2 linked regions of the Homo sapiens genome follow. The protein of the gene in region 2 interacts with the protein of the main gene of each other region in a pairwise test. Each region holds a gene or a part of one and is shown on either strand. Other genes may lie near its edges. The genes, in order: SLC26A11 and C5AR2.

Evidence for each region.
Region 1: the proteins of C5AR2 (region 2) and SLC26A11 interact in a two-hybrid assay, tested with the Homo sapiens proteins (one large-scale study listed by BioGRID and IntAct).

What each region holds. Positions count from the first base shown.
Region 1 is NC_000017.11:80,247,907-80,251,715, reverse strand, and holds part of SLC26A11 (sodium-independent sulfate anion transporter), read right to left. Parts: intron 3,587-3,809; coding exon 3,459-3,586; intron 3,142-3,458; coding exon 3,042-3,141; intron 2,563-3,041; coding exon 2,429-2,562; intron 388-2,428; coding exon 315-387; intron 1-314. UniProt on the Homo sapiens protein: Sodium-independent anion exchanger mediating bicarbonate, chloride, sulfate and oxalate transport.
Region 2 is NC_000019.10:47,338,618-47,342,426, reverse strand, and holds part of C5AR2 (C5a anaphylatoxin chemotactic receptor 2), read right to left. Parts: intron 1,941-3,809; exon of another isoform or gene 1,815-1,940; intron 1,643-1,814; 5' UTR 1,628-1,642; coding exon 614-1,627; 3' UTR 1-613.

The sequences.
Region 1 (3,809 bases), on a different chromosome or scaffold from region 2:
TCTCGGCTCAGTACAACCTCTGCCTCCTGGGTTCAAGCGATTCTCCTGCTTCAGCCTCCCGAATAGCTGGGACTAGAGGTGCATGCCACCACACCCAGCTAATTTTTGTATTTTTAGTACTGATGAGGTTTTACCATGTTGGCCAGGCTGGTCTCGAACTCCTGACCTCAGGTGATCCACCTGCCTCGGCCTCCCAAAGTGCTGGGATTACAGGCATGAGCCACTGTGCCCAGCTGGTTTCCCATATTTTTTACAATAAGCATTTATGATTTTTACAAAATCACCAAAGCCACAGGATGTCTGACTGTGCCCACCTGCTTCTTCCAGGGTAGAGAAGTACTGGAACCCCTTCAGGTCAGCGGACAGCAGGACACGGAGAACGGGGACCTGAGAGACAGACAGACTTTAGCCAGGGCAGGGATGTTCCTCTGTAGCACACGGGTCGGCAGCCTGGTAGACCTGCCATCTCAGAGTCTCCCGGAGAGGTATGGCTTCACCTCCATACCAGTGAATGGTGAGAAGAAACGCAGCCCCAGGGGAATGCTGTCAGAGGAAGATTTTTTTTTTTTTAATTTTTTGTTTTTTGAGACAGGGTCTTGCTCATTGCTCAGGCTGGAGTGCAGTGGCACGATCATGGCTCACTGCAGCCTCAACCTCCCAGACTCAAGTGATCCTCCCACCTCAGCCTCCTGAGTAGCTACAGGTGCACGCCACCACGTCCAGCTATTTTTTCCTATTTTTTTGATGGGGTTTCGTCATGTTGCCCAGGCTGGTCTCAAACTCCTGGCCTCAAATGATCCTCCTACCTCGGCCTCCCAAAGTGCTGGGATTACAGGTGTGAGCCACAGCGCCTGGCCCAGAGGACTTTTTGTTTGTTTGTTTGTTTTTGAGATGGAGTTTCACTCTTGTTACCCAGGCTGGAGTGCAATGGCGCGATCTCGGCTCACTGCAACCTCTGCCTCCCGGGTTCAAGCGATTCTCCTGCCTCAGCCCCCTGAGCAGCTGGGATTACAGGCGTGCGCCACCATGCCCGTCTAATTTTTGTATTTTTAGTAGAGACGGAGTTTCACTATGTTGGCCAGGCTGGTCTCAAACCCTTGACCTCCCGCCTCGGCCTCTCAAAGTGCTGGGATTACAGGTGTGAGCCACCATGTCTGGGTCAGAGGAGTATTTTTTTAAGTGAATCATCTCCAAAGACCATGAAGACATGTGCTCTGCAAATATGACACAGGACGTAACACTTATGAGCGAAGTTCTGAAGGCACATGCCCAAATCTGAAGCCGGGCCCACCATCCTGTGTGACCGTGGGCAGATTACCTGGCTTCTCTGGGCCTCAGTGACCTCTTCTGGACATGGGGATGAAGATAACACTAGCCTCGTGGGCCAGGTTGGGAATGAAGGAAACTCTGACAAGGGTCGGCTGTGGTCCACACCTGGGGTATACGGGTCACTTGGCCTCCTGTTCCATGGCTAGTTCATGAATGTCTCCTCTGGGCGCCTGGGGACACGCCCTAGTCCCCCACGTTCTGCCATCTAGGACTTGGCAGAGAGCGCACATTTAACCACAGCAACAGAGACCCCTGCCTCTCTGCAAACACTGGCCACACCCCTGGGATGTTGACCCTGCAGTGCTCAGAAGGCTCCTAGGTGAGGCCTAAGACGCAGGGCCTGGGACCCAGCCCTTACACTTTACCTGTGGCTCTGAACAGGACGGCCTCCATAGAAACCCGTCTTCAGCCTCTGGAAGCCCTGACAATACGTTTTTCATGAAATTCTATGAGCACCTGTTTTTTTTCGTTTGTTTGTTTTTGAGATGGAGTCCCACTCTGTCGCCCAGGCTGGAGTACAGTAGTGGGATCTCGGCTTACTGCAACCTCCACCTCCCAGGTTCAAGCGATTCTCCCAGCCTCCCATGTAGCTGGAATTACAGGCGCTCGCCACCACACCTGACTAGTTTTTTTTTGTATTTTTAGTAGAGACGGGGTTTCACCATGTTGGCCAGGCTGGTCTTGAACTCCTGACCTCAGGTGATCTGCCCGCCTTGGCCTCCCAAAGTGCTGGGATTCCAGGAGTGTGCCACCACGCCTAGCCTCACCTGTCTCTTTTTGTTTCCTAAAATACAATTCCCCTGAGAGCAGGGACTGACCCTCGTTCACTGTGTGTCCCCAGCACAAAGGACAGTGTGGCAGTGACCAGAAGCCATAACGTGACCCCTCGGAGGGCTGGGGGCCACCGCTCCCCCTTCCACAGGGAGGGACGAGGAAGGCCAGATGGGAACAAGAACTGTTTAAATCAGAAGCAGAGCCAGCACCGGCCGAAGGGCCGTCCAGCATCACAGCCCAGAGATGTCACATTCGCCATGGGAGGCAGGCACAGGAAGGCCTTCCGGCAGCTGCTAACCCCTAAGGCAGCCCAGTGCACACCCACCTGCAGGCCCACAAAGGCCAGGGCGACGCCCTGCTTCTGGAAGTCCTGGAGGAGCTCGCCGAGTCCCAGCACCACAGTGTAGTCGATGCTGCAGACATGGGTGCACTCCAGGACCAGGCAGCGTGGCGGGGACACTGGGGAGACAGGCCCGAGCCAGGTCACGCCACCCAGAGCAGCCCAAAGCTGCTCTGCAGAGGCCAAAGGAGGCTCTGGCCAGGGGCAGGGGACAGAGAGGCCAGAGTGCTCCATCTCGTGGCGGCTGAGTCGCCCAGTTGGGGGATTCGGGTGGCAGGACCAGAGACAATTGTTTGGTGACAGCAGCAGCTGTTTCCCTCCTAGGACTCACAGGCCCTTAGCTCCCCTAAAATCAACCCCCCAGAAACAGGAACCGGACTTTAGGGGCAGGGAAGGAGTGATATGTGGGGGGCCACCACCCTTGCTGCAGCAGCCACTGGCTGAGGCCCACAGAGGACGGTCCAGCCCACTCAGAGATGCCTGCATCCTTGTGGACTGGAGAGCGTTGGGGACAGGGTCTTGGGGTCCTGAACAGCAGGGAGTGGGGGGCAGAGGACAGGGGAGTGACCTCAGACCACCTTGACCCCCGCCCATGCACCTTCCAGGGCCCGGCTTAGGATCTCCTCCCGCAGAGCCTCCATGGCAGGGAAGGACAGGCCGCTGGCCGGCTGCAGGACCAGAACCGGCCCCTCTGACACCTGTGGGGAGGAGTGAGTCCTGGAGGCGGGTCTGACCGGGTGGCCTCCACCAGGCTTGGCCTGTCCCAAGCGGGAAGCCCCCACCCAACCTAGTGTGCTGCAGGGGACCGGGAGAGGGGTGCTAAGGGGAGACCCCCATGGCCCCCACACAGTGGGAGAACACCATGGTTTATAGCAAGGTGACTGCCCACCTGCCAGCGAGCGGTCCCCTTCAGCAGCACCCACGACCACAATCACCCCGGACCCTCAAAACATAAGACCATGCCCAGGAATCCTGCCCCCAGCACACTCCCCACTCAGAGGCCACGGAGGGGTACCTTGGTCTCAGGCCTGGCTGCAGAGTGCAGGAGCATGAGCAGAGACACCAGGGCCCCGGCCAGGATGCCGTACTGCACCTCCCAGAAGCACAGCAGGAAGGTCACGCACAGGGGCAGCAGGTCCAGCCCTAGGAGAAGGGCACAGCTGAGGAATGCCCGGCAGCTGCCCGAGGCCCCAACATGGCCCTGCTGACCAGCGGGACAGCTTTCTGCCCCCCACATATGAGTAAAGGTGCTCATGGACCCCAAGCAGCCCCTGAGGACTTGGGGACAGCAGCTGCTGACCAGGCCATGCTTCAAGTCGAAAGAAAGAAATGCCCTCCCCATCTGAGCTGAGCGCAGGTGAGACCT
Region 2 (3,809 bases):
TGGGCGACAGAGCGAGACTCCATCTCAAAAAAATAAATAAATAAATAGAATCTTTTATTTATTTATTTTTTGAGACGGAGTCTCGCTCTGTCGCCCAGGCTGGAGTGCAGGGGCTCAATCTTGGCTCACTGTCACCTCTGCCTCCCGGGTTCAAAACGATTCTTCTGCCTCAGCCTCCCAAGTAGCTGGGACTACAGGCATGCGCCACCATGCCCGGCTAATTTTTGTATTTTTAGTAGAGACAGGGTTTCACCATATTGGCTAGGCTGGTCTTGAAGTCCTGACCTCAAGTGATCTACCTGCCTCAGCCTCCCAAAGCCCTGGAATTACAGGCGTGAGCCACCGCAAATGGCCCTATATATCTTTGTTTATAGTCTGTCTTCCTCCACTAGAAGAATATCAGCTCCCTGAGGGCAGGATTTGTGTCTGTTTTGGTCACTGCTATATCTCTAGTGCCTAAAAAGGCCTTGCACATAGCAAGTGCATGATGGATATCTGTTGAATGAAGGAAGGAATAAAATGAAGACATCATTGAGCTCCTGGATCCAGCTATGCCTGAAGCCAGTCTTGTGAAATGAGATAAGAAGATACACACCCACAATGTCTCTCCAGCCTACACCTCCATCTCCGAGACCAGGTCATGGCTGGTGGATTTCTTGCTGTCCACACTTTCGTCCTGGCCCTGGGACTCCCTCAGGGCCCAGTGACAGGCAGCTGGCAGTGACCGGCGGAGTTGAGCCCTCCCAAAATACAGGAAGAGCATGGGATTGAGGCAGCTGTGAGCGAGGGCAAGGCCCACGATGAGGGGTTCAGCCCGCAGGGCCCTGGCCAGGAGTGCGGAGTTCGGGGCCGCCACAGTGAGCACCAGCCCCAGCAGGTGGTAGGGTGCCCAGCAGACAAAAAACCCCACCACAATGGCTGTGCCCAGCGGCCGGCAGCGTCGGGCTGCCCAGCACAGGAGGGCACTGTGGCAGCTGGCCACGGCCACCAGGGGCCCCAGGAAGCCAAAAAGAAACCGGATGGCAGTCACCGCATTCTCGGTGCTGGAGGAGCCGCCGTAGTCCACCACACACTGCAGCCGGGCTGGGAAGTGCTCCTGGTGCAGCCGGCGGTAGATGGCGGAGGGCACGGTGAGCAGCAAGGCCAGTGTCCAGGCTGCCCCACAGGCCACCTGCACCCCGCACGCCCGCTGAACCGTAGACCACCAGGCAGGCCCGAGAGCCAGGAAGCAGAGGTCGGCACTGAGAGCTGCCAGGAGCAGGACGCTGGCATACATGGTCAGCAGGATGATGGAGGGCAGCGCCCGACAGCCCACTGCACCATACGGCCAGTGGCCTCCACGGGCAATGGGCACTGCCAGGATGGGCAGAGACAAACAGCACAGCAAATCCGCCACGGCCAGGTGGAGCAACCAGGTGGCACCCACCCTCCGGCGGGCCACCTTCCCAGCCACCCAGGCCACCATGGCATTGCCCGGCACCCCCACCAGGAAGATGGCGGCATACAGTGGGAGCGGGGCCACGCGCAGCGGGTCGATGGCCAGGCAGGCGCCATCCAGGCAGTCCACAGGGCGGTCCGAGAGGTCGCTGTAATCCCCATACTCGTAGCTGACAGAATCGTTCCCCATTCAGGCTCCTGGTGTCTGGGCAGGAGAGAAAGACGATGAAAACTCAGAGGAGGAAACTCCATGGCCCTGGAGATCTAGGGTGTCCATCAGCCCGGCCCACCAGCACCTTGCAAACTGGAATATTGCGTCATAAGGACTCCAGTGCTTTAGAATATTGGAATTCTAGGCCGGGTGTGGTGGCTCACACCTGTAATCTTAACACTTTGGGAGGCCAAGACAGGTGGATCACTTGAGGTCAGGAATTCAAGACAGGCCAACATGGTGAAACACCGTCTCTACTAAAAATACAAAAATTAGCTGGGTGTGGTGGCGGGCACCTGTAATCCCAGCTACTTGGGAGGCTGAGAATTTCTTGAACCCAGAAGGTGGAGGTGGCAGTGAGCTGAGCTCACACCACTGCACTCCAGCCTGGGAGACAGAGTGAGACTCCATCTCAAAAAAAAAAAAAAAAAATTGGAATTCTAGAACTTAGTGTTGTTAGAAGTGGCATCTTGGAATTCTAGAATATTACAATGCCAGAACCCTAGTACATTGGAATATTGGGGCTGGGCACGGTGGTTCAGGCCTGTAATCCCAACGATTTGAGAGGCCAAGGTGGGAAGATCACTTGAGGTCAGGAGTTCTAGACCAGCCTGGGCAACATAGGGAGACCCCATCTCTACGAAAATTTTTTAAAACATAGCCAGGCATGGTCATGCGTGCCTGTGATCCTAGCTGCCGAAAAGGCTGAAGTGGGAGAATCATTTGAGCCCAGGAGATTGAGTGAGCTTGATCATACCCCTGCACTCCAGCCAGGATGACAGAGAGAGACTCTGTCTCAAAAAATAAAAAAAAATAGGAAAAGAAAGAAAGAAATGAGCAAAATCCAAAATCCACAGTATTTTAGAAGATAATAAATACTATGGGAAAAATATCACACAGGGAAGCTGGCTATGTTGGAGTTGTACAGGCATGGTCAGGGAAGGCTTCTTGAGAAGGTGACATTTGCATAAAAATCTGAAGGAACAGTGGGAGAGATGCATCGAGATCTGGGGGAAGAGTGTTTCAGGCATCGAGAACAGCCAGTGCAAAGGCCCTGAGGTGGGAACATGACGGTCATGTCCAAGAACAGCAAGGAGCCCAGTGTGGCTGGAGTGGAATCTGCCAGAGGGAGAGGGTGAGAGGCAATAGCAGAGTCATCAGGGGCCGGGCACAGTGGCTCATGCCAGTAATCACGGGAATTTGGGAGGCCAAGGTGGGTGGATCACCTGAGGTCAGGAGTTTGAGACCAGCCTGGCCAACATGGTGAAACCCCATCTCTCCTAAAAACACAAAAATAACCTGGAGTGATGGTGGACGCCTGTAATCCCAGCTACTCAGGAGGCTGAGGCAGGAGGGATCACTTGAACCAGGGAGGCGGAGGTTGCTGTGAGCTGAGATCATGCCAGTGCACTCCAGCCTGGGCAACAGAGCAAGACTCCATCTCAAAAAAAGAAAAAAACAAAACAAAACAAAACAAATGAAAAACAGTTATCAGGGGCCACGGCATGTAGGGCCACGTGGGCAACGCAAGGACATCATCATTTATTCCAAATGAGACAGGTGCTATAGGAGGGTGCTGAGCAAGGAAGCGACATAATCTATCATAGCAATAATTTATTTTTTTTGAGACAGAGTTTTGCTCTGTTGCCCAGGCTGGAGTGTGGTGGCATGATCTCGGCTCACTGCAACCTCCGCCTCCTGGGTTCAAGCAATTCTCCTGCCTCAGCCTCCCAAGTAGCTGAGATTACAGGTACATGCCACCACACCTGGCTAATTTTTGTATTTTTAGTAGAGATGGGGTTTCACCATGTTAGCCAGGCTGGTGTCGAACTCCTGACCTCAGGTGATCCACCTGCCTCAGCCTCCCAAAGTGCTGGGATTACAGGCGTGAGCCACCATGTCGGGCCACAATAATATTATTACTATATTATTACTATTTTTTGAGACAGGGTCTGGCTCTGTAGCCCAGACTGGACTGCAGCGGCACTTTCCCAGCTCACTGCAGCCTCCATCTCCTGGGCTCAAGCAACCCTCCACCTCACCCTCCCAAGTAGCTAGGACTACAGGTGCACACCATCATGCCTGATTAATTATTATTATTATTATTATTATTATTATTATTTTGGAGGTCATCTGGTTTCACCATGTTGCCCATGCTGGT